Regions from separate parts of the Homo sapiens genome. Here all the other regions are linked to region 2. The links come from fine-mapping of genetic effects on gene expression. A gene starts in region 2. Each other region holds a variant in brackets. All regions are shown on one strand. Distances are from middle to middle. Region 1 overlaps DNER (delta/notch like EGF repeat containing). Region 2 holds the start of PID1 (phosphotyrosine interaction domain containing 1). Region 3 has its middle 67 kb from the start of PID1. Region 4 has its middle 60 kb from the start of PID1. Region 5 overlaps DNER (delta/notch like EGF repeat containing). Region 6 has its middle 80 kb from the start of PID1. Region 7 overlaps DNER (delta/notch like EGF repeat containing).

The links. PIP is the estimated chance that this variant, and not a neighbour inherited with it, causes the effect.
Region 1: its variant is fine-mapped to the expression of PID1 in whole blood (TOPMed, PIP above 0.99).
Region 3: its variant is fine-mapped to the expression of PID1 in whole blood (TOPMed, PIP 0.96).
Region 4: its variant is fine-mapped to the expression of PID1 in whole blood (TOPMed, PIP above 0.99).
Region 5: its variant is fine-mapped to the expression of PID1 in non-classical monocytes (Schmiedel 2018, PIP 0.95).
Region 6: its variant is fine-mapped to the expression of PID1 in whole blood (INTERVAL, PIP above 0.99).
Region 7: its variant is fine-mapped to the expression of PID1 in whole blood (TOPMed, PIP 0.96).

Annotation. Positions count from the first base shown.
Region 1 is chr2:229,414,021-229,418,587 of GRCh38, reverse strand. DNER (delta/notch like EGF repeat containing) reads left to right here. Exons shown (of 13, transcript NM_139072.4): 9 at 358-480. Among named protein-coding and RNA genes, the nearest start is that of PID1, 150 kb to the right of the region's middle. The variant A/G (reference allele first, on the strand shown) is at 1,983.
Region 2 is chr2:229,268,734-229,273,300 of GRCh38, reverse strand. It overlaps PID1 (phosphotyrosine interaction domain containing 1), which reads left to right and starts at 2,014. Exons shown (of 3, transcript NM_001100818.2): 1 at 2,014-2,287. The coding sequence starts at 2,258.
Region 3 is chr2:229,336,341-229,340,907 of GRCh38, reverse strand. No RefSeq gene overlaps it. Among named protein-coding and RNA genes, the nearest start is that of PID1, 67 kb to the right of the region's middle. The variant T/C (reference allele first, on the strand shown) is at 2,425.
Region 4 is chr2:229,328,907-229,333,473 of GRCh38, reverse strand. No RefSeq gene overlaps it. Among named protein-coding and RNA genes, the nearest start is that of PID1, 60 kb to the right of the region's middle. RefSeq lists an enhancer at 1,766-2,846. The variant G/A (reference allele first, on the strand shown) is at 2,203.
Region 5 is chr2:229,358,519-229,363,085 of GRCh38, reverse strand. DNER (delta/notch like EGF repeat containing) reads left to right here. Exons shown (of 13, transcript NM_139072.4): 13 at 4,435-4,567. The coding sequence ends at 4,546. Among named protein-coding and RNA genes, the nearest start is that of PID1, 90 kb to the right of the region's middle. The variant C/T (reference allele first, on the strand shown) is at 2,150.
Region 6 is chr2:229,349,286-229,353,852 of GRCh38, reverse strand. No RefSeq gene overlaps it. Among named protein-coding and RNA genes, the nearest start is that of PID1, 80 kb to the right of the region's middle. The variant T/C (reference allele first, on the strand shown) is at 2,716.
Region 7 is chr2:229,379,179-229,383,745 of GRCh38, reverse strand. All of the region lies in intron 11 of DNER (delta/notch like EGF repeat containing), which reads left to right. Among named protein-coding and RNA genes, the nearest start is that of PID1, 110 kb to the right of the region's middle. The variant C/T (reference allele first, on the strand shown) is at 1,865.

The sequences.
Region 1 (4,567 bases), 150 kb before region 2:
CTGCCGTAAATCCTGCTCATTCACTATCTCTGATGGCCACAGCAGACACACTCAGTGACTGGATCACCCTAACACCAGCACTGTTGGATGCACTATGATGAAAATGTCAGTGGATAAATGGAATCACTTCTTTTATACTTGGGATCATGAAAAAGTGTGATAAGAACAGGCGCTTTCTTCATAGCCTTCCCCCAAATCCACCTTTCAACTTTACCCCAAGAGATCTAGCTCCTGAAATCCCATCTGTTTATACCATACTTTCTAATGAATACCCCCAACTGCCTTCCTTGCAGGCTGGTCCCGCGTGGGTTGTAAATGGGATGCATTTGACAGTGGGCCTTTCTCTCTGTCCCTCAGGTTACCATGGCCTCTACTGTGAGGAGGAATATAATGAGTGCCTCTCCGCTCCATGCCTGAATGCAGCCACCTGCAGGGACCTCGTTAATGGCTATGAGTGTGTGTGCCTGGCAGAATACAAAGGTGAGAGGCCGCCTGGCCTTCCTGTGCCAGAATGGCTCTAAATGACGTCATGTATTTCTCAGTGTAAATGCATAAACCTCTAATTGGACCATGAATTGTTCAGAATAACAATCAAATGCTGAAGCTGGCATGATTAATCGGTCCAAGGAGACCAATTTGCAAGTCTCTGGTTTCTTCCTGATAGATTGAGAAACAACCCCCTTTCCTGTCCTGTTCTTTGTGGATCCTCGCTTTCTTTTTTATTGAATGTGTAAAAAGCTGAAAACAAAAAGTAATATTAAGATGGACTGTCAGACATAGGTTAGAGACCATGGCTGTGAAAACTGTGGAAGAGGAAGGATGCCGTCCTATAAAGCTTCTTATGCAGAGATAGAATGCTGTGCTTTCTTGGGGAGGAGGCAGGCGGAGTCCCATGTATCAGCAAGTAAGTTAATGCTTATTAAAAACAGGCGACATTGACAGAGTGTTTCCAATGTGTGGACCCCGTTCTAACCCCTAATGTGCATAGCTCACTAAATCCCCCCGAGAACCCTATGAGGTGGACAGTAATGCTCTTCCCCTATAAGCCTGGTCAGCGTGGTTCCTAAAGCCCTTTCCCAGCATCTTCACTGGCCTCTGGCCACGTTTTGTGGATGGCAAGGCTTCCTGGAGCCCAGATATCCTCAGACGGCCCTGTTCCAGGAGAACCTATTTATCAGCTGTTGCACACATTTCTCTAAGCCATAACTACGGGGCCGGGTTTAGATTTTGGAATGCGTTTGTGGGCTCTATTTATAGCCATTTCATTCAACCGCTTGCTCCTATTGCTGCTTGCTTGATGCCATCCACCTGGCTGGAGACCTTGCATTGCCCTCACCGTTGCTTCTCTTTGGATGAACCTACCTTTATTTAGTAACCTTTTTGGCAAGTCTCATGGCCTTGTAGGCTACACTGAAAACTTGATTAAGCTCCTGGATAAGAGGGCTGAAGCTGGGCCAGGTCTTGACTTTGTGTTCCACAGATCTGATGCTTCTGTTGGAGTATGACGTTCGGTTAGAACCAAACTCCACTAACATCTACCAGGACACAACAGCAGATGTGCTGGCTTCATTCTCAGGCTTCTCAGTTCTGAGTCTATCTATCTATTACCTTTCTCTCTACATATCTTCAACCTCCTTCTTTCCCCTTGCTCCTTTCCATGTGTATAAATATTTTCATGGATTTCTTACTCTGAACAAATGAAGATTCTAGGAAGATGGCAGCTCACATTGACATTCAATATCTCTGATCCCTCCTGACTCTCTGCTAGGGATGGCTCAATAAGGTAGATGACCCTGAATGGGGTCATCTGAAGATTTGGGGTCTCAAGAAAGGGTATGTGTGCTGGGAGCCTTTGCTTAACCACAAGAACAGGGGATGAGGGCTCCAGAGAGAACTGATGACTCAATGAACAGATTAGTCCAAAAAAATCCTTCAGCTTATAGAGAGGAAGTGCATGCTGTAATTGTGCTGCGTCTGACCCT[A/G]GGAGGCAGAGGGGTGTACTGATCTCATGGCTACGGGCTGCTGTCTAAGGAAATTGCACAGTAGGCTGAGCTGGCCCCCCCATTTTTTGTGGCCTTGAGAACACCAAACTGGGAGGCCTCTCTCTGCCTCATGCCTTAGTACACAGGGCCCCATTGGCTGCCCATCCATCCCTGAAGGGGAATGTGTTATGTTGTCTGTCTCTGCCAAGATTTCCACCCACTAGCCTGGCCAGTACACTAGCCCACGCCAGCAACTCAGAGAGGGAGAAAAGTTTTGGGAAATAAAAACAAAAATTGCAACAACAGCTCTAAACACTCAAGAAAGGAAGTGAAGAAAGTAATGTACACTACTCAAAATTGAATTTGGATCTGAATAAAAAGGAGGAACTAGTGCATGAGAGAATCAAAATATGAGGAAGTGGAAACCACGAGTGAAAAGACAGGAAACATGGAGAAAAGATTTGAGAGATCTGCTTCTGCCTGAGCGATGGGTGCTCCAGAAGAAGGAGCATGTGGAAATAGAAGCAGAATTAACTAACTCCTAGAAGGAGGTGTCTGTGAGGTGAAGAAAGTCTTATTTTCAAATAGAATGGGCTCACAGGGCAGTAATGGGATTAATGAAGGAGATGATACACAATTTGAGATTTCCTGGTAAAATTTGTAACTGCAAGGATAAAGAGAATTTTTTACAAGATTCTTCGAAGGGATCACAGGTTACATACAGAAGAAAGAGAATCAAATCGGCATTGTACTGCCCCTCTCTATCATGAGGTAAAGAATAGCAGAGCAGCGTTTCAGACTTTTAAATGAAAAGGACTAGGAGTTTGTTGTTTATATTTGAGGGCAAAAGAAAGACATTGCCATACATTCAAGGATACAGAAAATATAGCACCCTATACCCTAAGATAAGTACCTTAATAAGCATCGCCACCAAATAGGAACTAAATCAAAACAAAGATATCCAGATAGGGGAAGATGGAGAATGGAAGGAAGAGATGTATGCCTTTAAATGCAGGCATAAATCTAAATATTTGATATTTATGTGATTGTGAATGGTAATATAATGGTGAAGGAAAGTCTCTTGAAAAAAGTAGATCCGCCTTCTGTATCAGCTATCTATTGCTGCATAACAAATCAGTACCCGGTACTGGCTTAAACAACATGCTTTTATTACCTAACAGTTTCCTAGGTCCAGGTGTGGCTTAGTCAATTCCCAGCTCAGGGGCTCACAAGGGTGAAAGCCAGGTATTGACTGACTGAGCTCTCATCTGAGGCTTGAATAGTGAGAAATCAGCTTCCAAGTCCCCTTAGGTTATTGGCAGAACTTATATCCTCGTGGCTGTAGGATTTGTGACAGCTTGCTCTTTGAAAGCTAGCAACTATGACAGAGACCCCACTGCTTCCAGTCTTGAACTTCCGGGAAGGCCTGGACTTTTTTTTTTTGTGATGGAGTTTCACTCTCATTGCCCAGGCTGGAGTGCAATGGTGTGATCTCGGCTCACACCAACCTCCACCTCCTGGGTTCAAGCGATTCTCCTGCCTCAGCCTCCTGAGTAGCTGGGATTACAGGCATTCACCACCATGCCCAGCTGATTTTGGATTTTTAGTAGAGACAAAGTTTCTCCATGTTGGTCAGGCTGGTCTTGAACTCCCGACCTCAGGTGATCCACCTGTCTTGGCCTCCCGAAGTGCTGGGATTGCAGACATGAGCCACTGCACCCAGCCTGGACCCTCTTAAAGGTCTCACCTGGTTAGGCCAGGCCCACCTGGGAGGAACTCAAAGTCAACTGATTAGGGACCTTAATTGCATCTTCAAAATGTCTTAACTGCCATTTGCTCTTGGTTGGAAGCTCACACTCAAAGGGAGGGAATTACACAAGGGTGTGACTCCCTAGGGGTCACTCTAGGCTGTGTCCACCACTCTTGCTCTTAAGGAAAAATTTCAACAAGTAAAGTGGTTTCATATTATTTAAAACAAAGCCATGTGTTGAAGGGGGTGAGGATAGGAAAGACTGAAAGGCATACAAGTGTGTTAAACATTTCACTCCTGGCTTGGTGTGGTGGCTCGCACCTGTAATCCCAACACTTTGGGAAGCTGCAGTGGGCAGATCACCTGAAGTCAGGAGTTCAAGACCAGACAGTGAAATCCCGTCTCTACTAAAAATACGAAAATTAGCCAGGTGTGGTGGCGGGTGCCTGTAATCTCAGCTACTCAGGAGGCTGAGGCACGGGAACTGCTTGAACCTGGGAGGTAGACGTTGCAGTGAGCTGAGATCACACCACTGCACTCCAGCCTGGGTGACAAATCCAATGGGCAGATAAAGTGTTTATTTAATTTTAGTATATTTATAAAGACTTTTAGGTTTAGGTTTAAATAAGGCTGCTGAAAACAGGGAGGTAAACCCTAGTAATGTAGCAGTAAATGGTAGAACTTCTAAACTAAGAGTGGTGGGGACATGGGGAGGGTAGGTAGAAGGAATTAAAGGAGAGACAGGAGGATCTAATCATGCTCTTCCACCCAGAGGAAGAGTGAGGGGAAGTGAGAGGCCACATGATCCTGTGCTTTTCTCTCCGTGGGGGGATGG
Region 2 (4,567 bases):
CTGGGAAGGTCATAAGGAATTTTGTAGGTGTGGAGGTGTGCAGGAGGAGTTACCGGAAAAGCAAACAGAGACCATATCACCAAGCATGTGAGGCACATGTCTGTGCGGGCTGACAGGCAAACACCTCATGAAAAGAGATTTATTAATAAGTTCAGAACAAGTAGCAGGAACTGGAGAAGGAGCTGAGAAGGTTCAGGTGGTTATCAGGCAGGAGTGGGAGGGTCCTGTGGATATCCAGGGAGACAGAGACAAGCTCTTCAGAGGCAGCTCTGTGGCTTTGCCAGAGGCTCCTAGAGGCACTGAGGGTCCTGGGCTTGCCAAGGCTGGTGGCACCAACATAGCAACCGCAGGGTCCAGAAGGATCTGCCTGGAATCCTGGATCTGAATCGCCATTGTAACTCCCCACAGTGTGACTCTGTGAACCCTGTGCTCCCCAAGCCTTGGGAGATAGGGGCTTCTGTCCCACGGAGAGTTGCTGCGAGGGTCCGATGAGCTGAGGGTTAGATTCTGGAGTGGTTCCATATCTGGAAATCATTGTAGTCATGCAGAACAAGGAAAATGGACAGATCCTCCTTCCAGACATGGAGTGTGGATTTTGACATTGCATGAGTAGCTCACGGCCCAAGCTGTGCAGCTGTCTCAGTATGAAATGCCTCTCTTTCACACCCCTCTGCTCTCAGGACCCTGCCTTGTAGGAGCCTAGGGCTCCCCACAAACATTGTGTTCTCTCTGCTCCTCTCTTTGGTCATTCTATGTCCTGAGTTCTTCCCACCATGTTCTCCTCTCCCACTCTTCATCAGCTCGAGAATCAGCTTAGTATCCCTGACTTGCCAAGTGCCTTTAACCCCCAGCCCTAGACGGATGCTCTTTCCACTGGGTTTCCATGGTCAGTTAGAGGCGCAGGGCCACATCTCCTGCCCTGAAGTCATCTGACTGTGCACTCTCTAAGCCACTCACTGGCTGTGTGACCTGGACAAGTGACCTAAACCTTATAAGCCTCATTTGTTTGATCCACATGGTGAAAATATTAATAGTTATTTTGCCGAGTTGTCAAGAGAATGGGAAGGGCTGGCCTGTTTAGGACAGGAAGTCATCTCATGGTGGCCGGCACTAGCCGGGGAGCCTCCAGGCCTGCGAGCCCAGAGCGGCTTTCCCTTGGGTTCTGAGAGCCTCCTGCTGCACCTGGCAGATCTCAGGATGAGTTAGTGATTCGGGAGTCTGCATGGCCCTCCTCACCCCTGTATAGGTTAGGAGTCGAGTCCTCTCCCCATCATGAAGCATGGCCTCTTCGTGGCCAATCCCTCTCATCTCTCAGGTCTTACTCCAGGCATTCCCCAGGGCCCTTGTCTAAGAAGCTCTCCTCTCCCCTTCTTCCCACATCTGCCCTGTTTTATCACCACCCGATATAGCACCGGCTTGTTGATGTGTTTGCTCAGTCACGACTCTCTCTCCAAAGCAGAAGGTAAGCTCCAGAGAGAAGGAACATTCTCTTGTCTTCTATTCTGCGTCGCTGCATCCTCAGAACCCAGCATAGGGGCTGGAGCCTAATAGATGCTCAGTTAACTGGAGTGGGAAGAATGAATGGAAGTGTCTCCCTAGCACAGCGCCAGGCACAGCACAGGCACTTCAGAGATGCCTGTTATATGGAAACCCGGGACCCCCGGGGCTACGGTTTCCTTATTTTAGGAATTTCCCCCACCCCCGCCACCCCCGACATCCCCGCTGCCCCCACCACCCCCGGCTCCAGGCCCTTCCCCCCTCAGCCAGTCTGTCCCTTTTCCCAGACCCCAACCCAATGGGGGCTTCCTGCAGGGAAGGGCCGGCTGTTCTAGCCTCCCCATTCACCCCTCACTAGGATTTAGAGTCGGCCGCGCTGCACTCCCGCCCCGCGCGGCCCCTGGGCGCCCGCCCCGGGCATGCTCAGAGCGCGCAGGTCCGGGCGGCGGCGGCGGGGGAGGAGGGAGCGGCCGCCCCCGCCGCCGCCGCGCGCTCGCCGGGCCCGGGCGGAGCTGCGCAGTCCTCTCGCAGCTGCGCCAGGACAGCCGGCGCGCGGCCGTGCCCACAAGTTGCCGGCAGCTGAGCGCCGCGCCTCCTCCTGCTCGCAGCCCCCTACGCCCACCCGGCGGCGGTGGCCAGCGCCAGGACGCACATCCCGCGGACACCGACCCCAGATGTAAAGCGGGACCCCAGCCCCTCGCCCCCCGGCGCGATCGACAGTCTCGCCAGCGTCTCCTCTGCCAAAACCCAGGGCTGGAAGATGTGGCAGCCGGCCACGGAGCGCCTGCAGGTAAGGGGCACCCGGGAGCCGGGGGCCAGCCTGGAGGAGGAGGTGCCCGGGCAGAGGAACCTAGTTTTTGCTTCTGCCTACTTTAGGGGATTTGCCCAAAACCATCTTGTAAGACGCATCGATGGCAACATGATGCTGTCGGTTTACCCAGCGCCAGGAACCCGGCAGGGGTATGGGGATGATGAAATTGATAAACGCACGGGTTCAGGCGTTACAACTTTTGGCTTGGAGGTGCTTGTGTGCGTGTTGGTTGGTACATATAAGGTTGGACTTTCTGACTGGCAATTTAGATTGCATTCCACTGACACAATGCAGTGGTCTGGGGTTAGGATTTTTGAAGCCAGATTTTTTTTTTTTTTTTTTTTTTTTTGTGGTCACCAGGAAAGACAGAACAAGTGATATGTGAAAGCATCCATTTGCCAATATAATGTGGAAATATCAAGCTTGGTTTGGCTTGGTCATGGTATGCTACTTATTTTATTTTTCCCTATTCATTGGTTCTCTCCCTTTATCTTCCTTAAACCCAAGCTCCTTCAGATATTTAAGAATCAAAAGTAGGTTCAGCCAGGAATATTTATGTCCTGGGTTATCCCATCAAAAGTTTTTTACTGCTGTCTCCTGAAATGCCAGACTGCCTTGAATTGGATTCTGGAAGCTGGGGATTTGCGGGAGGCGATTGAAGAGAAAGAGGGACCTTTCCCAGAAGAACTCCTTCAGTGACACGTTGGGCCTTGGGATTGCCCTGGTTGCAAGGTTTGAGGACTGCCTTTTGCTGGCAAATATTGTCAAGAGTCACGGCAGCTACTCTGCCAGATAAAATCCACTGAATCCTGCAGTTAAACTTTTGGCAAGCTAGGAGCCACATTGTTTCGTAGTAAACTTTGAAGACGTGTTTAACTGGTAAAATACAGCACCATTGGAGGCTGAGTGCATCTGAAGACTTAGGACAATGAGGCCAGGCCCTGGCTAGGTTGGAGGCTTCTCAATGAACATTTACAGCCCCAAGCACAGTTTCTCAGATGCAGGGAGAGGCTAACCTTTGTCTAGGAGTCCTCATACAGAGGAACAACCCGCAGAGGGCATTGCATTTAGCAGAAACAGATGCCCCACAGCTCCTTTCCAAAGCTCCCTGGGCCATGATTTGCGGGGAGTGTGTTCAATTTATCAGAGCCTGAGACACCAGACCAGTTCCCCAGGGTCTCAAGTAGAATAAACAAGAAAACCTGCATTTAGCCTTGCAGATGAGGAGGTGGATGACCAACCTCCTAACCCCCTCCTTGTCTTACTAAGAGAATATCAGCACTGGGCTCTGAATGACTGATAGAAGGTGATGTAAATATATTTTGGCAGTGGCACCAGATACCAGTGGCGCATTTGAAGTTCTCCTTCGGTTAAAGGCGTAACTTCTATTCCAAAGGAGCAGAATGATTGAGGGGAGCTGGCAGGTTTCCTGTTCAAGTGCAGAGGGTAGCTTTTGGAAGTCCTTAGAGAGATGTGACCAAAATTCCTTGAGGTGGCTTTTATGGCCTGATGATCTGTACCTCTGAAGAGTTTGTAGATTTTTGACTATTCAAGTTCTTCCTACCGGCCTGTTTCACTTAGGGAATCCTGTGCGCTCTGGAGCATGTGACCCTTGGCAGGTGGGCGCTCTCGCTTGCCTTCCCATAGAGATTGCTCCTCACTAGAAATGTCTCCCCCTTATTTTGTGAAATGTGCACGTGTGCATTTTGGCGTGAGCCTGGTTTATTGCAGTTGGTGTTTGCAATGCGTTTATTTTATTTCAAGGTGTCATGTTGAAAGAACCTGTTTTTAGGCTTTTGAAAGCTCATATAAACAGGGCTTATCACCAATAAGACCGAGTCACTGTTGGAAGGTCCTTACCAACAGGGGGCTCAACTTCATGCTGCCCAAATTTCGATGAGTCTCTTTTGAAAGTACATACATCTCAAGCCTTGAGATTAGAGAAGTGAGACAAATGCGGAAAAATTTTTTTATATCCGTGGCTTCTTCCCAAAGAGTATTGCTTGACTCTCCTTGAAAACACATAATTTATATGTTTTTACTTTTGCCTCTGAGAGAGCTGTTGAGGATGAGATGGTGAGTGAGCTGCTTATCATATTTTATTTACATTCCTTGTGGTTATCTTTGTCACAATCTCTGTTTGCTGTCTGGGGTTTTTTCCTTTTCTTTTCCTTTCACCGTGATATAGAAACATGCCTGTCCGATTCCTCAGTGAGAAGCCACTTTGCCACTCCCAGGCTCTGTGGCCACAGAGATAGC
Region 3 (4,567 bases), 68 kb before region 2:
ACATGTCTTTTTGTCTTGCTGCAGGCACCATCCTCTCCAGCAGGCCTTCCTGCCTTCCTAAATACCTTCTTTGAGGTTTGTGAACTGAGATTTTTGAAGGTAGAGTTTCATCTTCAATTGCCTAGCATAGGGTCCAGAATGCATCAGAACGTAACAGGAGCTCAAGAAATGTTTGGTGAGTGAATCAGTTATGTAGCGAGTGGAGCAGGGGTGAATTTGTATCCATGGGAGCTGGGCCCCTGTCCCACTGGCCCTCCAGGCTGGCCTGGTGCTGTTCCTGCTGCTCCTGGTGACCATATGGTGTCCTCGCCACAGAGGTCTTGTGGGTGTACTGCTGCCACATGAGTCATGGTGGCCTCTGAGAGCTGCACTGGGAGCTCAGGCAGCCCCATGAAATGGGCTTTTTGCTCCAGGAAGGATTTTGTGGCTTCCAAAGTTCAGAGGGGACTTCAGTGAAGAAAAGTAATTTCATAGTCTTAACTTCAGAAGCAACCAATGCCTTCAAGAGTTTTTCTGGGCTGTAATCGATCATGTTTGGAGCAAGACCACAGGGCCGTCTTGGCAAAGGCCATCTGGAACTCAGGGAGTGGGAAAGCAAGGGCTAATTGGTTGTGTGTGTGTCTGGTGGGAGGCTGGAATCTCTGACACTCATGGAGAATGGGGGTGGCAAGGCCGCTGGCTGGCTCCCTGGGCTGGGAGTCTGGGACACCAGGCAGGAGGAAGCCAGCCTCCTCTCTGCTTCCTCCACATGTGCTTTTGCGAAAAGCCCCGTCATCACCTTACACTCCCCTAGCCCACATGTTGCTTGTCCTGGATTTGGGGTCTGTTTGAATGGGAGCTGGTCTTGGTTAAATGGTGCAAAGTCGGGCCCACTTCGGCTTCCCGTGGATACCACTTACAGGTGTGAAACCAGAGAGAAACAGTGATCAAATAGGAAAGTGTGTGCTGGAAAGGACCCTCTGTTTACGGAACTGTCTGGTTAAAATATAAGGACATTAGCACTTTGACAAACACGGTGGCTCACAGCAATGTTTCCTGGTAATAAGTTCGTTGTTTGTGAGTCACGATGGATTTGGAAATTCTTGAGCTCTGGGAGGTCTGGCCCATGGAATGACTCCCTTAGACAATTTTGCATGGCCAGCAGCTGCTGGCTTCCAGTGGAGGCCACCTGTCAGCATTTCACCTGGCACCCTCACCTCCCAGTTCCAGGAAGAAAACAACTGGCTCCCAGGGCTAGTCTCTCTCTCTCTCTCTCTCTTTTTTTTTTCGGGGTAGGGGAGGGGTGGTGGAGAGACAGGGTCTCCCTCTGTAACCCAGGCTGGAGTGTAGTGGCATGATCTCAGCTCACTGCATCCTCGACCTCCCAGGCTCAAATGATCCTCCTGCCTCAGCCTCCCAAGTAGCTGGGACCACAGGCACACGCCACCACGCCTGGCTATTTTTTTGTATTTGTGGTAGAGACGGGATTTTGCCATGTTGCTTAGGCTGGTTTCAAACTCCTGAGCTCAGGAGATCCACCCACCTGGGCCTCCCAAAGTGCTGGGATTACAGGTGTGAGTCACCATGCCTGGCTGTCTTTCTCTTTTCATCATTTCAGTGTTTGCCATTCTAACTGGTTTACAAATATTTTGTTTCTTGCTGGTTTGGTGCATTTTTTGAAAGATATAGGGTCTTGCTATGTTGCCCAGGCTGAGGTGCTGTGAGTATTCACAGGCACAAACATACTGCACTATAGCCTCAAATTCCTGGGCTCAAGCAATCCTCCTGCTTCAGCCTCCCAAGTGGCTGGGACCACAGGTATGCAACACTGTACCCAGCTTGGTTGCATTTTGAATCCTGAGAGACTTCAGCAAAAGTAGGCAGAGGGCTTCTCAGTGTCCCGGTCACCAGGTCTAGGAGACAAGAAGTTGGGGGGAAGAAGGGGGGTTCCAGTACCAACCTGTAGTCACTTTCAGAAAACGCAGAGATGCTCATGGCAGGAAATTGGTGTTTATGAGAAAGGACTTTCTCCTGCTGGGAGCATTTAAGCTTTTTTCAGGGTCTGGTCAGAGGCTCAACTGTTTGCCCTGTGTATACATCTGCAGAACCAGATGAAAAGAGGCTTTGGCAAGCCGTAAACTACATGCAGCAGAGCATCGTGAACCACTAATATCTACCACCTGCTTCACTCACTTTTCCATAAATTACACCGTGTTTCTGTCTTTGGAGAACAGTCACAAGTGTCAGGCCCAGGACCCTGTTGATTCGAAAGATGCCATCCACCTGGTTCCTGAATCCTATCTCAGACTGGGCAAATTTGGATGGAGGGTTACCCATCAGTGTGCAGAGCTGGGCACCTTGACCTTGAAGTGCTGCCTGGGCCCCCTTGCAGTCAAAGACTTCCCCTAAAGCCTTGCTCTCAAACTTGCCTGCATCAGGGAGGGC[T/C]CAGACAAAATTCAGGAGGCCTAGTCACATTTTAATTGAGATAAACAATGAGTAACTCTTAAGTATGTCTCAGGCAATATTTGGGATGTTCTTAGAGTAAAAAATGTATTAGTTATCTGAAATTCAAATTTAATTGAGTCTTCTATACTTTTATTTGCGAAATCTGGCAACCCTGGCTCAACACTGCAATCACATGGGGGAATTTATAAAAAAGACTGATATCTAGGTCCTACCCCCAAAACCTCTAATTTAATTGGTGTTGATTGGACCTGAACACTGGGGACTTTAACAGCTTCTCTACTGATTTTAATATGCAGAAAGGTTTGACCACTGCAGAACTAAAATCGTGATTTATAAACCATTCTCAGCTCTGCAAAGCTTCACAAGCTTTTTCATCTTAACAGTCCAGACTACCTTATTCACCTGCTGTAATTTATCAGCTGTCTAAGGTTAGTCAACCACCCTGAGCCTCAGTTTTCTCACCTGTAGATAAGGGTGTGGCACCAAGTTAATGTCTGATTCTCAATGCTACGTTTACACTGCTCTTAAGTGCAGAGAGGCATAAGCTGTATTCCAGAGAGTCTAAAGCAACTGGCCACAGGCAAGAAAATATTTTGGAGCTTTCATGATTTAATCAAAAAATTTCTGTGAATTTTATGTTTTATTTTTGATTACACATGTGTGTTTTAATATGAAAATAAGGAATTGATTTGCCTCCACGGAATTCAAGTAAAACTGGCCACAAAGGAAGATGAACTCTGTTTATCCCGTGATGTCATGGGCCTCCTAGTTGACCAGCAAGATCTCTTGCAGGAATCATACTTTGGCTGGAGAATCAGAAAAGTTATGCTCCTGTCTGCTGTGGAGTTTGGTTCAATTATTTCATTCTGAGACATTCTGAACTACCTTTCCTCACTTGGAAGAGTACAGAGCTTGGTGTGAGGCCCAGGTAAGCTTGCTAATTATGTCCCTCTCTCAGCTACAGAGAAAGAAGATGAATATGGGTGAGCTTAAAAATGGCTCCAAACTTAGAAACATCCCCCCTCTCAGTAAGGGGCAAAGTGAATAAATCATGGCATTTTGCCTATGGAATTCTGTGCATACAGTTAAAAGAATGAGTTACATTTTTGGCATTGACCTGGAAGGATGCTCATTCTCTATGGTTAGTAAAGAACACAGATTATAGAATAATAGAACCTGACATAATATAGCCTTAAATATAATCAGAGAGATGGGTTGTGAGTGGGTTGGTGATAGAGGGAGACTGTTACATTTTCTAGACCCAAATTTATTAGCCTCATTGTATTAGGTTGGCACAAAAGTAATTGTGTTTTTTGCCATTACTGTTGTGCCAACCTAATAGCATCATCTGCATTATCTTGGAGTTGGTTTAAAAAATGCAGAATTTGACCAGGTGTGGTGGCTCACGCCTGTAATCCCAGCACTTTGGGAGGCTGAGGTGGGTGGATCACCTAAGGTCAGGAGTTTGAGACCAGCCTGACCAATATAGTTGAAACCCTGTCTCTACTAAAAATACAAAAATTACCTGGGCATGGTGTCGTGCACCTGTAGTCCCAGCTACTTGGGAGACTGAAAAGGGAGAATTGCTTGAATCTGGGAGGCGGAGGTTGCAGTGAGCCGAGATCGCACCACTGCACTCCAGCCTGAGTGACAGAGCAAGACTCAGTCTCAAAAAATAAAAAATATAAATAAATAAATAAATAAATAAATAAATAAATAAATAAATAATGCAGAATTTCAGGCCTCACCCCCAGACCTTCTGCTTGGAATCCACAGTATAACAAGATTCTCAGGTGTGTTGAATACACATTACATGTTGAGAGAGGCATTGTTTTAGACAAGCCTGGGTTGACTGAAACATTAAAATCACCATGTATTACTTTCATAACATGTGAATGAAATTTTTAAAAATTATCTGAAAATGTAAGTGTTTATAAATAGTAATTATCTATATAATTTTTGCTGTAACTGTTACTTTAATCCAAGCAAGTTTCTACTGCCTGTGAAATATCTCTGCAGAGAACCAGAGAGCAAGTTGGGCCTGAATTGCGTCTGCTGAACACATTCTAGGTCTAGCCATTTCCCTGATCCACATCAGTCCCAACTCTTCCACCATCCTGTG
Region 4 (4,567 bases), 60 kb before region 2:
TACATGAGCTGATACCTGTAAAGCACTTAGAACCACGCCTAGCATCTGGTAAGTGTGGTAATGTGTTTGCTGTAATTATTATTCATTTGGCCTCCCGCCAATCTATTCTTCTCACCAGCTAGTCTTATCTTTCCTTTCAAAAGTAAAATCCCTTGGGCACTCTATCTTCTTATTTTCCACCTCCCAGTACCCTAGATATGTCTACTAACGTGGGGGTGAGAATGCAGAGAAGAAGAAGCAATGGAGCCTCACATAGCAATACTTTTCCTCCAGTCAATCTGCATTCTAAACTCCTATTCATTCTTTAAAAGGCAGACAGACATCACCTTCTTTGGGTGACCTCTTTTGGTCTTCCAGAGAGAGCCCCTTCCTTCCTTTTCTTTTTCTATTTTTTTTTAGAATCAGAGTCTCACTCTGTCACCAAGGCTGGAGGTGGAGTGGAGTGGTGCCATCATAGCTCATTGCAGCCTCCAATTCCTGGTCTCAAGCGATCCTCTCACCTCAGCCTCCCGAGTAGCTGGGACTACACGTGTGTGCCACCACACCTGCCTAATTATTTTTAGAGATGGGGTCTTGCCATGTTGCCCAGGCTTGTCTGAAATTCCTGGCCTCAAGCAATCCTCTCTCCTTGGCCTCCTGAGTTGCTGGGATTATAGGCGTAACTCCTTTTTAATGAACCATATCTGCACATCTTTCTCCTACTGCGCATGTTACGTGGAGTTGAGATTATTTGCTTGCCTTTTTATCAGCAACGCTAAACTGTGAACACCTTGAGGTGGAACATCTATGTTTTTTAGCACAAGGGCAGCATTTGGCACACAGAAGGAGGTCCATACATTTGGTTGAATGGAATTGAATGAGACCCTTAGTTACTTAGGGGAAAGGCAGAGGTGCTGTGAATTTGGTGGGGTGTGTGGCTACAGAGGATGGCATCACATAGAACTATGGGGTTGTCTATAGGGGAAGGTCACATGGAATTGCTTGGCACTTGGGATAGAGATGTTTCTAACTGCAGCAATTATGCTCTGAAGGGCTCCTCTCCCTGAACACGAGATTAATGAGTGCTATTGACAGCAAATATGATAATTATCTAATGATATTCATAAGTGTCTGAAATACTTGGCACTGTGCCTGTGACAACTTGGGAGCCATTTTCCATTTACATCTTAAAGTGAATCTAACTCATTTAAAAATAATAACAAACCGACCACCGTTGATAAAAACCATAGGTTAGATAAGCATTTAGTCTCCTCTACTGCCCCTCTGCAATTATGCATATGGAGGCTTCCAATCCTAAGCAGAGGCAAAGCCTTCCCCCGCTGACTGAATTTAGTCTCTAAGAAGACTGGCAATGGGAGCAAACTAAGGCCTCTTTAGAACCTGCATTGTTAGAGAGCCAAGCTTTTAATTAAAATACAACTGGGTACAAACCTGTACAGAAGCCATACTTAAGGGAGACACAAGTTTTGCAACCTCACCCCAGCAGTCTTACGTTGGGAGCAGGTGGTGCTGGAGGGCAGACACATTGGAGGTGCTGGAAGAAGGTGGTCGTGACTGGTGGGGCAGGTAGGGGTCACCATTCCACGTTGAGGTCCAGGATGATAGAAGTGCTTCAGGGGCAAGGAGAGGTCCTTCACTAAGGTAGACCATGCACTCAGATGTTGCCCACGGAGAAGGTAGTATGGGGTCAACATCTGCCAAAGGACTATCTAGCTGGAGTCTCAGAAAGACAGGAAAGTGAGTTCTCCAGAAGAAGAGGGTTAGGCCACAGTTCTTACGGATTCAGGTGCAAAAGATGTGATTTACCCCTCGATACTTAAGTACAAAAACGTCAGGTGTTTTCCTGAATCAAATTTAGCCTGACTTAGGTCTTAGCCTTCTCTTTTTGATAATGTACAAAATGCCAGAACTTACACAATCTTGAAATGTTGATAAAGAGCCTGGGGTCTCTGGTGGCCACTGAGCTACTCAGGAAATAGGCAGCAAGGCTCATCAGAAGATGTGGGAAGAGAGGGACCAGGTGATTTGCCCAGAGTCTCACAGCAGGTAGGTGGGCCAAGACTCACACACGGCACTTTTGTCTCTTACCAGCCCAGGCCATTTGTCTTCTCTCCTCCTCCTTGTGCCAAATCCATTCAACAGAATAGGTGCTCTCAGTGAGTCTCTAGTGGAGAAGTTTTCAAGTAGCCACACAGCAATTAC[G/A]CAGTGCCAGCAATTGTCATATCAGCCCTAAGAAAGGTTTTGAAAGCTGCAGTGAAAGGACTCCACGTCTCCAAGTCTCGTGCTCAGAGAGTTCAGAAACCAAATAGGAAGTGAAACCACAGGACCATCTGCAAGAGAAAAAAATAAAGAAATGAGGAAGCCAGGAGGGGGAAGCATGGAAATGAACCCTGACCAGGGTACTGATGACAGTTAAATAAGGGCAAGACTTGATGAACGATGGGAAGTCTTGGTTGTATTAAGAACCAAAGGTTACTTCAACAAGCATTTACGGAGTGACTTTCCTGTGCCAAATCCTATGCGAGGTGCTGAGGATATAAAGATTAATTAGACCTCCAGCTCATTGCTGAGTCCAGAGACTATAGTATTTCACAGATTCAATCACAGATATCTGTACAAGGCACAGAACCCATTAGGAAGAAAGAGTGATTTCATAGCTCATGGGGTGAATGAAGGCATAGCTCATATGCCAGCTGTCTGCTGTCCTTTGAAATAAATAAAACATTTTATTTATTTCAAAGGACAGCTGGAAATATTTTATTTACTTATTTTTATTTAATGTACTTCATCAAAAATAATTAACTCCAGGCCCCTAGCTCATGATTAGGGAACAGCCAATGGACTCTCCAAAATTTCTGGCAACTTCCAGGGTCTCACAGGCTCACAGTTCCTTCTGACTCTGAGAACCCAACAGAGGTCAGACTCACAAGACCATGTGTCTCACTTTCTACAGCTTTTCTTTCCTGTGCTCCATTCTGACCCAGATATGGATCTCATCCTTTTTCTACAAAAAGCTTTCACACAAGCTGGAGTTGGATTAAAAAATAATAGTATGGCGAGGCACGGTGGCTCACGCCTGTAATCTCAGCACTTTGGGAGGCTAAGGCAGGCAATCACTTGATATCAGGAGCTTGAGAGAAGCCTGGCCAACATGGTGAAACCCCATCTCTACTAAAAATACAAAAATTGCCAGGCACAGTGGTGCGTGCCTGTAATCCCAGCTACTTGGGAGGCTGAGGCAGGAGAATCACTTGAATCTGGGAGACAGTGGTTGCAGTGAGCTGAGATCGCACCACTGCACTCCAGCCTGGGCAACAGAATGAGACTTTGTCTCAAAAAAAAAAAAAAAAGAAAAGAAAAAAAACACCCAAAAAAGTATGGAGATGAACACTAAAGAATAGGAATAAATCACCCCCAGTCAGAATTGGCATTGGCTGTTAAAAGTTTCATGTGACTACTTTACCAGCTGAAAATCAGCTCTTCACACAAGGCACATGTAGGTCAACTGAATTTAATGAAAATATGTGAACATGGCTTTTCCACTTAAATGACTGAAAATCTAATATGACTTAGTCCTATCTTTAAAAGTATTTCAGCCTTCTCACCATGGGAATTCTTCACTGGCCAACTTGCCCAGAAAACTGCTACCTTCCTCCATCGCTGCTTGATCATCTTTCCTCCAGAGCCTCTTTACCAATCCATGACCAGCATTTTTCCAAAATTCATTTTAATTAGGTACAATTTCTATACAATAAGATAAGATGCACCCATTTTAAGAGTGCAGTTTGATGAGGTTTGACAAAAGTATAAACCTATTTAACCAACACAATCAGTATCTAGAACATAGCCGCCATCCAAAAAGCTTCTTTACGTCCATTTGTGGTATCTTTCCCACCTCTGCTTCCAGGCATGCATTGATCTGTGTTTGGCTGTCTACTTAAGTCTATGTATTTTATGACATACAAATGGGATCATACAGTATGTACTCTTTTGTGTCTATGAATCACTTTATGAGTTTTAACAAAGCAGTTGCCCATGATTGCTCCTTTTTATTATTTAGTAGCATTCCATTGAACAAATATACTACAATTTGTTTATCCATTCACCTGCTGATGGACATTTGAGCCTTTCCCCTTTTTGATGATTACAAACGATGCTATGAACATATTTGTACAAGTCTTTGCATGGAAATACGTCCTTATTTCTCTTGAGTGAATACCTAGCAGTAAAACTATTGAGTTGTATAGCTAAGTGTGTATTTAACTTTATAAGAAATTGTCAAACTGATTTCCAAATAAGTTGTTCAATTTTACATTTCCTCAAGCGATGCACAGCATTTCCAAATACTCTACGTCCTCATCAAAATTGGGTATTGTCAGTGTTTTTAATTGGGTATGTCAGATACCATACTTATCACCCACTTGGGTGCACAACTATAGTGTCTCATTATTATTTTAATTTGACTAATGATGTTGAGCATCTTTTCCAGTGTTTCTTGGCCATTTATATATATTCTTCATGAAATGTCTGATCAAATCTTTGCCCATTTAAAAAATTGGGTTGTCTT
Region 5 (4,567 bases), 90 kb before region 2:
AGGGTTCTCCAAGTTCTGACACTGAGGTCCCACTCAGTTGACTGCTCTACGAGCTAGAAGTGCCTGATCACGGGAAAAAGACAATGGAGGACATGTTCAGTTTTTTTCCCCAATAGCTCAAAACCTTCCAATTTTGGCCTTTCTCAAGATCTGACATTCTTTCTGCGGCATTGTTTTAGTGGTTGACTTTCAGAGGACCATGAACTAGCGGCTCTTTGACCTGCCTTATAACTGGTTACAGTATCTTTTGTTTCTTTGAAGAAATAGACACACAAGACTTGTCACCAAATAGGATGTTTGAGATGTCCGTGCTAACTGATATTACTGGTGCTGTCATTTCTGTTAGTGCCTCTGTGATGGCCAACACTTACTGAAAGCTTCCCGTGGGCCAGACACTGTGCTAAATCATTCACAAATAACTCATTGGCAAGCATCTCACAAGAATGTAGGGGACCATGTATCATTAGTCCCCCATTATAGGCAAAAGAAATTTGGGCTTAGTGAGATAATACAATTTACACAAGGGTCACAGAGTTTGTGAGAAAACCAGGACTTGTAAGTGAGATTTGTAAGCCAGAGTTTGTTAATGAGAAGGAGGATGTGCTGATTTGAAGGTGATGCCTTTCAATGCAGAAGTACATAGCCTCTTGTCAGGCACAGGTTAAGTGAGAGCTTCAGTTTATGGGGTCGTCACATGCATGAAGGTTGCAACGAAGTGTTCAGCATCTAGGCTTGGAAGCCAGAAAGCTCCACCTCCCACCAGGTGTGACCTTAGGAAAATTATTCCTAAGTGTCTGTTTCCTCATCTGTAATACAGGATAAATGAGATGTACTCACTTCACGAGGTTGTTATGATGATGAGATGAGATGATCAATCAGTGAAAACAAGACAATGGAATGTGATGTTGAGTGAGCACCAAGGACAATGGATGCATCACCCCTCGAGGGGCTAGGAAGGAGCCGCAGATGGAGCCACCACATTAGGGTATTTGAGCTATTTTTTCAGGAGGAGGGGGAGTGTGTCAACTCCTTCCCATCTTTTAAAGATCTGGCTTCCTCATGGACCATCAGCAGACATTTCCCAAGTGTCATGGTCTGTGGTCATGTCGTGGGCCATGAGCTACTTCAGGTGGGAACATGTTACTATGAACACTAAGTGTTCCACCCAGCCCGCCCCACCCAGCACAGAAGAAACATTTTCTTATTAATGTTTTAACTTGTAGGAATTTTTTTTTTTTACTTAACAAGAATGCTGAGTAAAACATTACACAGACTATCGATTGAAAAAAGTCAGTCTCAATACAGTATTCAGAGTATTTTCTCAATTTTGTTAAAATATGTAATATAATTATTATATATAATACTTTCAGAGGGGCTTCATACATATTTGTAAAATGAATGGAAGGGATGTGGGATTGAGGGATGGGCAGACTGAAGAATAATGCACAAAACATTGACACGTCCTTTGGAGAGCAGCACTAAGGGCGATTCTTGTGGTCTTCATCAGGGACCTGTAAAATGTTTTAGACTTTGCAGGCCATATTGTCCTGACTACTCAACTCAGCCTTTGTTGTGCAAAAGCAGCCAGAGGAAGTGTGAATAGGCTTGACTATGTTCAACTAAGACTTTATTTGAAAAACAGGCATCAGGCTGGAATTGGCCTGTGGACTATAGTTTGCTAACCCCTAGTCTATTTTATAATTTTCTCTAGCTTCCAATTTTATTTTGGTTTTTTTTTACATTTAAAATGTACCTTTATGATAAAAAGTAGTAGTTATTTTTAAAATGAACACTTGCATGAAAATGCCTGCAATAAAATAAACAGCCTCTGACATTGATTTAGTGCCTGAGATATTAAAAAAAAAAACACTGTTAGTCTTTTAAATGTAGACATGAATGCACATTCGTTTACCAACAAGTGTAAGCCTGCTACTGTGAGAGGTGTAGGAGATTCAAACAAAGTCTTTTCATTGTACTGTGTGTTTTAAAACTGTGGTGTTTCTATAAACGACGTCATTTTAGCTTCCATATGGTAGATACAGCATTTCAGGTGGAAACCTCCAAAATTCTCCTAAGGAATTTGGACAAAGTTCTCAGCAGCTAGTAAGTTGAAATGCAGGGATTCCAGCTCCAAGCCTGCCTGCTCTCT[C/T]TTCTGGTGCTGGGGCTATTAGTCTTATTTTAACCACCTTCGTAACTAGCATTATACTTTATGACCCATACTTGTTTGGAGTTAATCCCATTAGGACCGGGCCACACAGCTCAGTTAACCAGTGTGGACACAGAGTGGTGCTCCTTGCTCTTCAGTTGACCTTGAACATGCATAGGTGGCCATGTGGCTCACTCTTGAGAGGCATCAGCCCTTGCCTTGTCATACTCAGTGGATCTGTGGCTCACGCCTGTAATCTCAGCACTTTGGGAGGCCGAGGCGGGTGGATCACGAGGTCAGGAGATTGAGACCATCCTGGCTAACACAGTGAAACCCCGTCTCTACTAAAAATACAAAAAATTAGCTGGGCGTGGTGGCGGGCGCCTGTAGTCCCAGCTACTCGGGAAGCTGAGGCAGGAGAATGGCACGAACATAGGAGGTGGAGCTTGCCGCGTGAGCCGAGACCACGCCACTGCACTCCAGCCTGGGCAACAGTGCGAGACTCTGTCTCAAAAATAAAAAATAAAAAAAAGGATGTTTTAAAGATATATACAATTGGGTTTTTCCTTTCAGCCAACCAATCGAATAATTAGTTAGTTAATATAATTTGTTGGCCCTCAAGTCAAAGCTCTCTATATCCTACTATGTTAGATATGGAGAGCTCTTCACTGGGTTGCTGGATATTTTTGGTTAAATTATTATTAGTGGTGGTGTATCTAGGTATTTTATGAGAAATAAATTGTCAAAATGTTTGCATCTTAAAGCAGCCTAGGAAATTGTCAGACTTGGGAGAAAGTGTAAGACCCAACAGGCCTGTTGACACTTTTACTCTGTTGACACTTTTCCTATCCTTAGATTATGCAGGCCTCACTCAATTTAGGTGAACAAACTGCAGGCTAGAGCCTGACCCACATCTATGTGAGCACAATGGTGGACCTTCAGTGAGGCTTCACATTTTAGAAAGTATTTATTGAAGTCTTTTGTCATATTGCAGTAATAGCTGTGGGTTTTTCTGAGGGTAGAATGCTTTAACTCTTTAACCCCGTGTTTTGCCTGGTGCCTGTCTGGCATAGCATATGCCTTTGTGCTCTTCAAGGCCAGTAAAATTTGAGAGGATTGGAATACAAGATTGATGACTGTTTAAAATGAAAGATCACATGAAGAACGCACTGTTTTCTCATTTCCCGCTTGATTCTACTTCCCATCTCCATACATGAGAAGACAGACTTTCAACATATCAAAGGAAAAAATAGGAAAAGAGGAGAGTTGGGACAGGAGCCATGGCAAATAAGCCCCTTTAATTCCTAGGGACCCCATCCTAGGAACCTTGTAAAATTTAAGGTTCTTTTAAAATGTCTTTTTAAAGAGCCCTGGTGGAATTGAAACAATTAAAAAATGTTGTCCAGACAAAGGAGGAGGGAGGATGGGTTAGTGTGGAAGATCGTTTGAATCCTGTTGCACTCCAGGGCTTGTAGGGAAGGTGAGGTCTTGAATGGGAAGAGACCACCCAGAAGTTGAATTGGCTTTATTTTAATAATTGCCACCTTACGACAGGTTTGACAGGAAGTCCTGAAATTGGATTTTGACTCCCTTGGCTTCTGAGAGGCAGTCCTGCTGTCGAGGCAATTTTGATACATACAAATCTGTTGGGACAATGGCTTTGTGCTCTGAGGAAAACATTGGCTTCTGTGTCCATAAGGTTGGGAGGTGATAGGTGGGTGGGATTCAATGGTGAGTTCTGGCATAGTTTGTGGACAGACACCTCTGTATCTGAAGTCATTTCCCACCTCTGCCCTTTTGTGTTGGGATCTCAGATGACCTTAAACCTTCACAGCTTATCCCCTGAAAATCCCACAGGAAAGGCTGTCTGTCCATGGCCCGGGGAAGACTGCCCTGGTGTTCTATATTCCAGGCACTGGAGTAGATATAAAATAAACTCACCTCTCCAAATATTTATGGGCCTCAGAAGAAAAAGACAAATCAATACACATTTTCTTAAAATCTATTGTGGAGCTGTCATGCTTGACTGCTTTGCCAAGATTTAACCTGCAAGCTCCAACTTTGAGCTCTACATTTTGTGAAATATGTTTTTTTGCCTCGAACACCAAAGACTAATGTTTATACACATTCAGTGTTAATATTAGGATGTCTAAAGTTTCTATGCTTGCTATAGAATATGTTTTTACAGTTTCATTTAATTCATGCATATAAATTATTCTCATCACTTGCTTTAATTAAACTTGAGATCTAGTATTTATCTAACCAGAGTCCTTTCTCTCTGATTTCAGGTTTGGAAAGAAATCCCGGCCTGCAATGTATGATGTGAGCCCCATCGCCTATGAAGATTACAGTCCTGATGACAAACCCTTGGTCACACTGATTAAAACTAAAGATTTGTAATCTTTTTTTGGATTATTTTTC
Region 6 (4,567 bases), 81 kb before region 2:
GGACTATGTATTTTCTAAGATGTTCCTCTATATAGATTTTTATGACGTTTGACCCATGATCAGACTGTAGTTACACGTTTTGGGGAGGACAACCACAGAGATAAAGTGCCATGTTCATCATGTCTTATCAAGGTTACATACTAACAACATGATTTATTACTGTGGATGCTGACCTTAATCACCTGGCTGAAGCATTGGTCAGGCTTCTCCACTGTAAAATTACCTTTTCCCTCTTCTCTCCAGACTGTACTCTCTGGAAGGAAGTCACTATGTGTAGCCCACACTTAGGGAGCGGGGAGTTATGCTTCTCCACTTCCTTAAGGATAAAGTATCTACTTCAATTATTTGGGATTCTGCATGAGAAATTTGTTTATTCTCCCACGTTTATTTATTCAATAACTTATTTATACTAGTATGGACTAACGGACATTTTTGTTATTGTTTGGAGTATAATTTAACACTTTTTTTTTTTTGCTCAAAATTTTCCATCTTTGGCCATTGAGAGCTTTTCTAGTCGGCACCTTTGACATACCTTCATCATTGTGTATCTCTGTGTGTGTGTACATGTGCCTGTGTGTGTGTATGTACCTGTGCCTGTGTGTGCGTGCATTTTAGCACTTTCTTGCTTTCTGGCAATACAGGATGCTCCAGGCTCATCTTGTGTGTTTCCTGCTTCAGACTTAGAATCAGCCATTTTTTTCCAGGGAGATTGGTTCCTTTCATTGCAGTGAGAGTGGTTTATAACAAATGAGCATTTGAAATTGATTTGACAATAGCCAACTGTCTTACTCCATTTGTGTGGCTATAACAAAATGCCTGAGGCCAGATAATTTATAAAGAACAGAAATGTATTTCTCACAGTGCCGGAGGCTAGAAGTCCAAAACCAAGATACCAGCAGGTTTGGTGTCTGGTGAGGACCTGGTGTCCACTTCTAAGATGATGCATTGTCGCCGCATCCTCTGGAGGGGAGAAACACTGTGTCCTCACATGGTGGAAGGGACAGGGGGTGAAAAGTGAGGAGTGAAAGTCCTCCTTCAAGCCCTTTCAGGTGGGCACCTAATCCCATTCATGAGGGCACAGCCCTCATGACTCAGTTCTAAAGGCCACACCTCTTAATAGTGTTGCATTGGGGGTTAAATTTTAACCTGAATTTTGGAAGCAACAAAGAAAGACATTCAAACCATACCATACACACTCACTTGGAAGCCCAATTAAGTGAAATATTTTCTACCCCACAGAGTTTTATTCTTCTCCTTAGTAGACTTGTATTACAAAAATAAATCGTATTCAATTATTGTTATATTTTGACTTCCATTAATAAAAAATGTGTGGAATGTTATCTCCTCTCATGTTATACAAGTATCTATATCATATGCTCAGTTTTATATCTTGGCCAGCACAAGACTAAAATGTTTAATATCTGGTCTTTTACAGACAAGGTTGGCTGACCTCTGCTTGAGAGCAACATTCTGTAGTGTAAGTGAGGTAACATACTTAAGGACCAGCATAGTGATGGCACATGGTAGGCATGTGGTATGGGGGAACACATGTCTCCATTCTCCCTTGAGAAGGCGAACTCTTTCAGGACGACTCTGTCTTATTCAGCTGTATAACTCTAGTGCTTGGCATGTTGGTTGACCTTTAGCAAACCTTTATTAAATGTTTCCATTGATTGAATAGCAAAATGCATGATGATTTAATGCAGAAGGAGATAGAAGGTTGTATGTGAGAGAACAATGAAAGATGACATGGTTGAAATGGAAGGCAAAGGCACACATTAATATGGAACCAGTGGGAATGCCTTCTAGAGTTTTACACATTTGTTTGCAAAATATCTGCAAGATTTCCATCTTATGTATCTGTTGACCTGGCCTGGCTATTTGAGAACCTGGACTGGTCAATAAGATATATTATTTTTTCAATCATTCAATTTATCTCAATCCCTTACAAAATGCAATACTTAGAAGGCTTTTATAGGCTTTATTGAGGGCCTTGGGGGAGAGTCACAGAGAGGTTCATATTGCATGGAGAAGGTGACCTTCCACCATATGCAGATTCTGCTTCCTCTCTTGTTCTTCTGTTGTTCTCATCTCCCTCTCCAGAACCATAAGAAAATTAATCTCTTGTTTTGTTTTGTGCAGAGCAGTCGTTCTCACCCTCACAATCCTTAGGAAAGAATCTTCTATCTCAAATGCACCTTAAGTATATTTCCAACAAAATATTGGTCTATTCTTGAAATGACTCAAGTAAAAGCTCCCAAGAAAATCAAACTCTCTATATGTCATTTCATTTAATATAATTATTAGAATGCCTCTGGCTGCAGGTCACTGACAGCAAACCCAATACATACACTGACTTAAAATATAAGAAAATCTTGTAACTGGTAGTCCAGAAGCGAGGTAAGCTTCAGGAACAGCTTGATCCAGAAGCTCTTATTCCATTTATTTGCAGTTTCCTTGGTCATGCTCTCCTCTAGGTGATGGCTTCATCATCAGGCTGCTTCCCTTGTGATGGCAGAATGGCTATGACAATTTCTACCTTCACATACTCAGGCTACCCTATATTTTTGTGTACCCACTCATTCCACTCTACTCCATTTTCTCTTATTCTGCATTATTATTTTCAATCATACTTGCTAGTATCTATCTGCCATGTCATTGAGTTACTTTTTCAGTCATTTTTTTTCTGTTTTCCCAGTAGTACTTTAGCTCCAC[T/C]TTGTGATCACTACTGTATCACCAGTGCTAGGAACAGTGCTTGGCACATAGTAGCTGCTTAAGAAACATTTGCTGAATGAATGAATGTCAGGACATTCAGAGGATGAACTAGAGATTGCCTCAGAGGCTCCCTCTTAGCAGCTAGGGGATTTCTTCCTCAAATATTTAGTAACTCTTATTGGCCCAAACTGGGTCATGTACACATGTTGGAATTATCCCTCATGGCCAGCTAAATGCTACACCCTCACTAACAAAGGCCTGGATTCCTGAATCAATCACTGCTGAGGGGGCATAGGATTATCCTGAGGCTGGGAAAGGGGTCATTGGCCCTAGAAATATATGGAACGTAGAGTGAGAGGTGGGGCAAGAGCAGTACGGATGCAAAACTAAAGGGCAGTTGAGATGGGGAAGGGGAGTGGTCCTAGGAGGCAACCACGCATGTCTTCTCCAACTACACATAGATATAGGAGTGAGCAGTGTGGGTGGAGAAGGTGGAGAGGCACTGAGCTGGGAGTTAACAAATTTAGATTTTTATCTTAGCTCTTTCTTGAATAAGCTGACAGAAACTTGGTGAGTCATTCACCTCTCCCAGCCTATGCTTTGTCATTTATATTTTATACATATTTTTATTTTTTGAGGACAGAGTCTCACTTTGTTGCCCAGGCTCGAGTTTAGTGGTGTGATCTTGGCTCACTGCAACCTCCACCTCCTGGGTTCCAGTGATTCTCGTGCCTTACAGGCTTGCACCATCATGCCCAGCTAATTTTTGTATTTTTAGCAGAAATGGAGTTTCACCATGTCCGGCCAGGCTGGTCTCCAATTCCTCGCCTGAAGCGATCTGCCTGCTGTGGCCTCCCAAAGTGCTGGGATTACAGGTGTAAACCACCATGCCCGGCCTGTCATTTTTAATACTGAGCAATTAAACTATGGTTATAACTTGGCTTTCAGCCCTAGATGAGCCACAGATGTGCTTTTGTTTGTCCTACACCATATGTTTAAATGTGTAAACCAAAATTAATAATTAGGATCTCTCTGTCTCTCTCACACACACACACACACACACATACACACTCCACTCACACAAATCAGTTTTCTGGCTTACCTTGAAAACTCAGAAATGTGATTGCACCATCCATATGGAGACAGGAGAAAGGAAAAAAACAGGCAGACAGTTAAGACAGGTCACTGGTAGAATTGTTTTAAACAGAGAAATAGGCTGAAAAATCAACCTACAGCTACACAGATAAGGGGACAAGCCCCAACATAGAAACACCTTTGTTCATTGTATAATCAGCGGACTCCCAGGAAAGTTTCCTCCCCTTTTGTGGACATGTACCTGGTGGCTCCGTGGGAACTTTCTTGGCGGGGGAGGCTTGCCTGAGACATGTCCACAGCTGTACAGATAAGGGCAGTTACACAGGCCACTACATAGACAAGGACAATTTCTTATAAAAACATTTATATTCAACTGTAAAATGGCAACCCTCTCCACTGCAGAGAGCTTTCCTCTTTTGCTTATTAAACTTTCACTCCAACCTCACCCTTGGTGTCCGTGCTCCTTAATTTTCTTGGTTGTGAGACAAAGAACTCAACACCTCAGACAATAAGATTGCTTCATTGACCCTAGATGGCTTCATTATTACCACATGGCAGCAAGTGGCTGAAATGGAAATGAAACTGCCCCTTTTAGATAGTTGGGCACAAACCCCACCACTCCCTATTGTCTCACTGACACTAAAGGTGAATGTCAGTTACTACTTATAATATTTTTTGCCCAGTTATTTTTGTTTTAGTTTTGCTTTATTTTCATTTTGTGGATAAACATTTCTCTATATCCATGCCATCAAAACAG
Region 7 (4,567 bases), 110 kb before region 2:
ATGCTCCTTTATTGGGTGCATATATATTTAAGACAGTTAGCTCTTCTTGTTTCATTGATCCCTTTACCATTATGTAATGCCCTTTTTTGTCTCTTTTGATCTTTGTTGGTTTAAAGTCTGTTTTATTAGAGACTAGAATTGAAATCCCTCCTTTTTTTGCTTTCCATTTGCTTGGTAAATATTCCTCCATCCCTTTATTTTGAGCCTATGTGTGTCTTTGCATGTGAGGTGGGTCTCCTGAATACAGCACACCAATGGGTCTTGACTCTATGCAATTTGCCACTGTGTGTCTTTTAATTGAGGCATTTAGCCCATTTACATTTAAGGTTAGTATTGTTATGTTTGAATTTGCTCCTGTCATTATGATGCTAGCTGGTTATTTTGCCCGTTAGTTGATACAGTTTTTTCATAGTGTCAATTGTCTTTACAATTTGGTATGTTTTTGCAGTGGCTGGTACTGGTTTTTCCTTTCCATATTTAGTGCTTCCTTCAGGAGCTCTTGTAAGGCAGGCCTGGTGGTAACAAAATCTCTTAGCATTTGCTTGTCTGTAAAGGATTTTATTTCTCCTTCACTTACGAAACTTAGGTTGGCTGGATATGAAATTCTGGGTTGAAAATTCTTTTGTTTCAGAATGTTGAATATTGGCCTCCACTCTCTTCTGGCTTGTAGGGTTTCTGCAGAGAGATCTGCCGTTAGTCTGATGGGCTTCCTTTTGTGGGTAACCCGACCTTTCTCTCTGGCTGCCCTTAACATTTTTCCTTCATTTCAATTGTGGTGAATCTGATGATTATGTGTCTTGGGGTTGCTCTTCTCGAGGAGTATCTTTGTGGTGTTCTCTGTATTTTCTGAATTATGTTGGCCTGTCTTGCTAGGTTGGGGAAGTTCTCCCGGATAATATCCTAAAAAGTGTTTTCCAACTTGTTTCCATTCTCCCCGTCACTTTCAAGTACACCAATCAAACAGGTTTGGTCTTTTCACATAGTCCCATATTTTTTGGAGGCGTTGTTCATTCCTTTTCATTCTTTTTTCTCTAATCTTGTCTTCATGCTTTATTTCATTAAGTTGGTCTTCAGTCTCTTATATCCTTTCTTCTGCTTGATCTATTTGGCTATTGATACTTGTGTATGCTTCACAAAATTCTCTTGCTGTATTTTTCAGCTCCATCAGGTCATTTATGTTCTTCTGTAAACTGGTTATTCTAGTTAGCAATTCATCTAACCTTTTTTCAAGTTTCTTAGCTTCCTTGCATTGGGTTAGAACATGCTTCTTTAGCTCAGAGGAGTTTGTTATTACCCACCTTCTGGAACCTACTTCTGTCAATTCGTCAAACTCATTCTCTGTCCAGTTCTGTTCCCTCGCTAGTGAGAAGTTGTGATCCTTTGGAGGAGAAGAGGCATTCTGGTTTTTGGAATTTTTAGCCTTTTTGTGCTGGTTTTTCCTCATCTTCGTGGATTTATCTACCTTTGGTCTTTGATGTTGGTGACCTTTGGATGGGGTTTCTGTGTGGACATCCTTTTTGTTGATGTTGATGCTATTCCTTTCTGTTTGTTAGTTTTCCTTCTAACAGTCAGACCCCTCTGCTGTGGGTCTGCTGGAGTTTGCTGGAGGTCCACTCCAGACCATTTGCCTGGGTATCACCAATGGAGGCTGTGGAACAGCAAAGATGTCTGCCTGTTCCTTCATCTGGAAGCTTCTTCCCAGAGGGTCACCTGCCAGATGCCAGCCGGAGTTCTCCTATATGAGGTGTCTGTTGATCCCTGCTGGGAGGTGTCTCTCTGTCAGGAGGCACCCACTTGAGGAGGCAGCCTGTCCTTTAACAGAGCTCAAGTGCTGTGCTGGGAGATCCACTGCTCTCTTCAGAGC[C/T]GGCAGGCAGGAACATTTAAGTCTGCTGAAGCTGCACCCACAGCTGCCCCTTCCCCCAGGTGCTCTGTCCCAGGGAGATGGGAGTTTTATCTATAAGCTCCTTACTGAGGCTGCTGCTTTTCTTTCAGAAATGCCCTGCACAGAGAGGAGGAATCTAGAGAGGCTGTCTGGTTATAGTGGCTTTGCAGTGCTGCGGTGGGCTCCGTCCAATCCAAACTTCCTGGCGGCTTTGTTTACACTGTGAGGGGAAAACCGCCTACTCAAGCCTCAGTAATGGTGGACGCCCCTCCCCCCACCAAGCTTCAGTGTCCCAGGTCGACTTCAGACTGCTGTGCTGGTAGTGAGAATTTCAAGCCAGTGGATCTTAGTTTGCTGGGCTCCGTGGGGGTGGGATCTGCTGAGCTAGACCACTTGGCTCCCTGGTTGCAGCCACCTTTCCAGGGGAGTGAACGGTTTTGTCTCACTGGTGTTCCAGGAGCCACTGGGGTAGGAAAAAAAAAGTACTCCTGCAGCTAGCTCAGTGTCTGCCCAGATGGCTGCCCAGTTTTGTGCTTGAAACCCAGGGCCCTGGTGACATAGGTACCCGAGGGAATCTCCTGGTCTGTGGATTGTGAAGACCATGGGAAAAGTATAGTATCTAGGCTGGAGTGCACCGTTCCTCACGACACAGTCCCTCATGGCTTCCCTTGGCTAGGGGAGGGAGTTTCTTGACCCCTTGTGTTTCCCGGGTGAGGCGACACCCCATCCTGCTTCTGCTCGCCCTCCATGGGCTGTACCCACTGTCTAACCAGTCTCAATGAGATGAGCCAGCTACCTCAGTTGGAAATGCAGAAATCAGCTGCCTTCTGCATTGATCTTGCTGGGAGCTGCACACCAGAGCTGTTCCTATTCGGCCATTTTGCCAGCCTCCCCTCCAGTTTTCTTTTTTTATTTTATTTTATTTTTTTATTTTTATTTTTTGAGATGGAGTCTTGCTGTGTCCAGGCTGGAGTGCAGTGGTATGATCTCAGCTCACTGCAACCTCTGCCTCCTCGGTTCAAGTGATTCTCCTACCTCAGCTTCCCGAGTAGCTGGGATTACAGGTGTGTGGCACCACTCCTGGCTAATTTTTGTATTTTTAGTAGAGAAGGGGTTTCACTATGTTGGCCAGGATGGTCTCGATCTCTTGACCTCATGATCCACCTGCCTTGGCCTCCCAAAGTGCTGGGATTACAGGTGTGAGTCACCGTGCCTGACTGCAATCGAGTTTTCAATTGTTTTGGAACTGTTAAAGATTCAACTTTGAAAGGTATTGTCTTCTTATTTAAATTAGCTGGGGCAATTTGATCTTTCATAGCCGAAGAGAGCTAACCATGCTGGTTGGGTGAAAGTTTCCTCCCTATTCCAGATTGCTTCTTTTCCTGGGAAAGTTGCATAAGAACTCCCTTCCGCGCTCTGTCACCTGCTCACTCACCTTTTGACAGATAAAGAAAACTTGTCTTCTGTGTGAATTTGGAAGGATGCAAATCAGTACCCACAGTCCTGCCTGCCTGCTTCTGCCTGTCTGTCTGTGTCACTTGGCCTGATCTGTCTGCTCTCTCCACTCCTCTCTATGTCACAAGACCAGGCCCTCACTGGTGGTTCTGGCTGCCTATGGCTGGATAGGGTCATCTCATTCTCAGTGTTTTCTAATGTAGAGGGTGGCCGGTATTAGGAAACTCTCTTGTCCAAATGTGGACCACATTCTCTGACATCAACTTGACCAACTTGACCACATTCTCCAACGTCAATTTGATCAACTTGATAAGAGGCTGAGGATATGATTTAGCTTCTTACCTGCTCACTCACTGTCTTTCTTCTTGGTTCATGCAGCCAAAGTGTGAAGTGTGTAATTGTTATAGGCCTCCCCCTTAGCATTCTCAATTGCTCTCATACAGAATGGGCTTCGAATTAACTTTCCTTGCTAAAGATGGGTGAGAACTACTTTCTTGTTGAAGAGAGAGACAAGGGACTGAAAAGGATTTCAATGGTAAAATTCTAAGGGACTGTAGTTATAGGATGTTAAGTCCAGTCTGGTGGAATCTGCTGGTGGAAAGGATTCCAGACTTGGGTCAGCAGGACCTTGGTTCTTATCCTGGCCAAGGCACTCGTTATGACTGCATTTGCTTGTGCTGAGCCTCAGTTTACTTTTCCAGAAAATGGGATCAGTTTTCATTCTAAAGTTTAGTATGACAAATTGACACACTTTGTGCCTTTAGGGCAGAGTAATATCTACTTATAACTTTAAAATGGGATTCATGAAGATAAATATATAGGAGAGTATAGATGAAAAGTCAGGAACACACAGGATATCATCAAGAAATTTTGAAGTGAAATCCTATCATTGTAAAAAATCTAAAGTTTACTTCTTCTGGTGATGATAATGTAGGCAAAATATGGAATAACAAAAGGATCAAAGTCGACTTCAGATTCAAGCTCCATCATATTCTAACTATGTAACCTGGAAAAACAAATTTACCTCTGGGAGCCTTGTCTTTCTCACTTGATTATAGGAAGGCTTCCCATGCTGGTTGCTGTGAGGATTACATGAGGCAAATGTCCAGATTTCTGCTGTTCAGTAGACACTAAATAAATACTGGTTGATCTTTCTTTTATTTTTTCTGTACTACTATACCTCTTATGCTATGAGCTACTCCCAGGAAGGATTAACCTTCAGCAATTGTC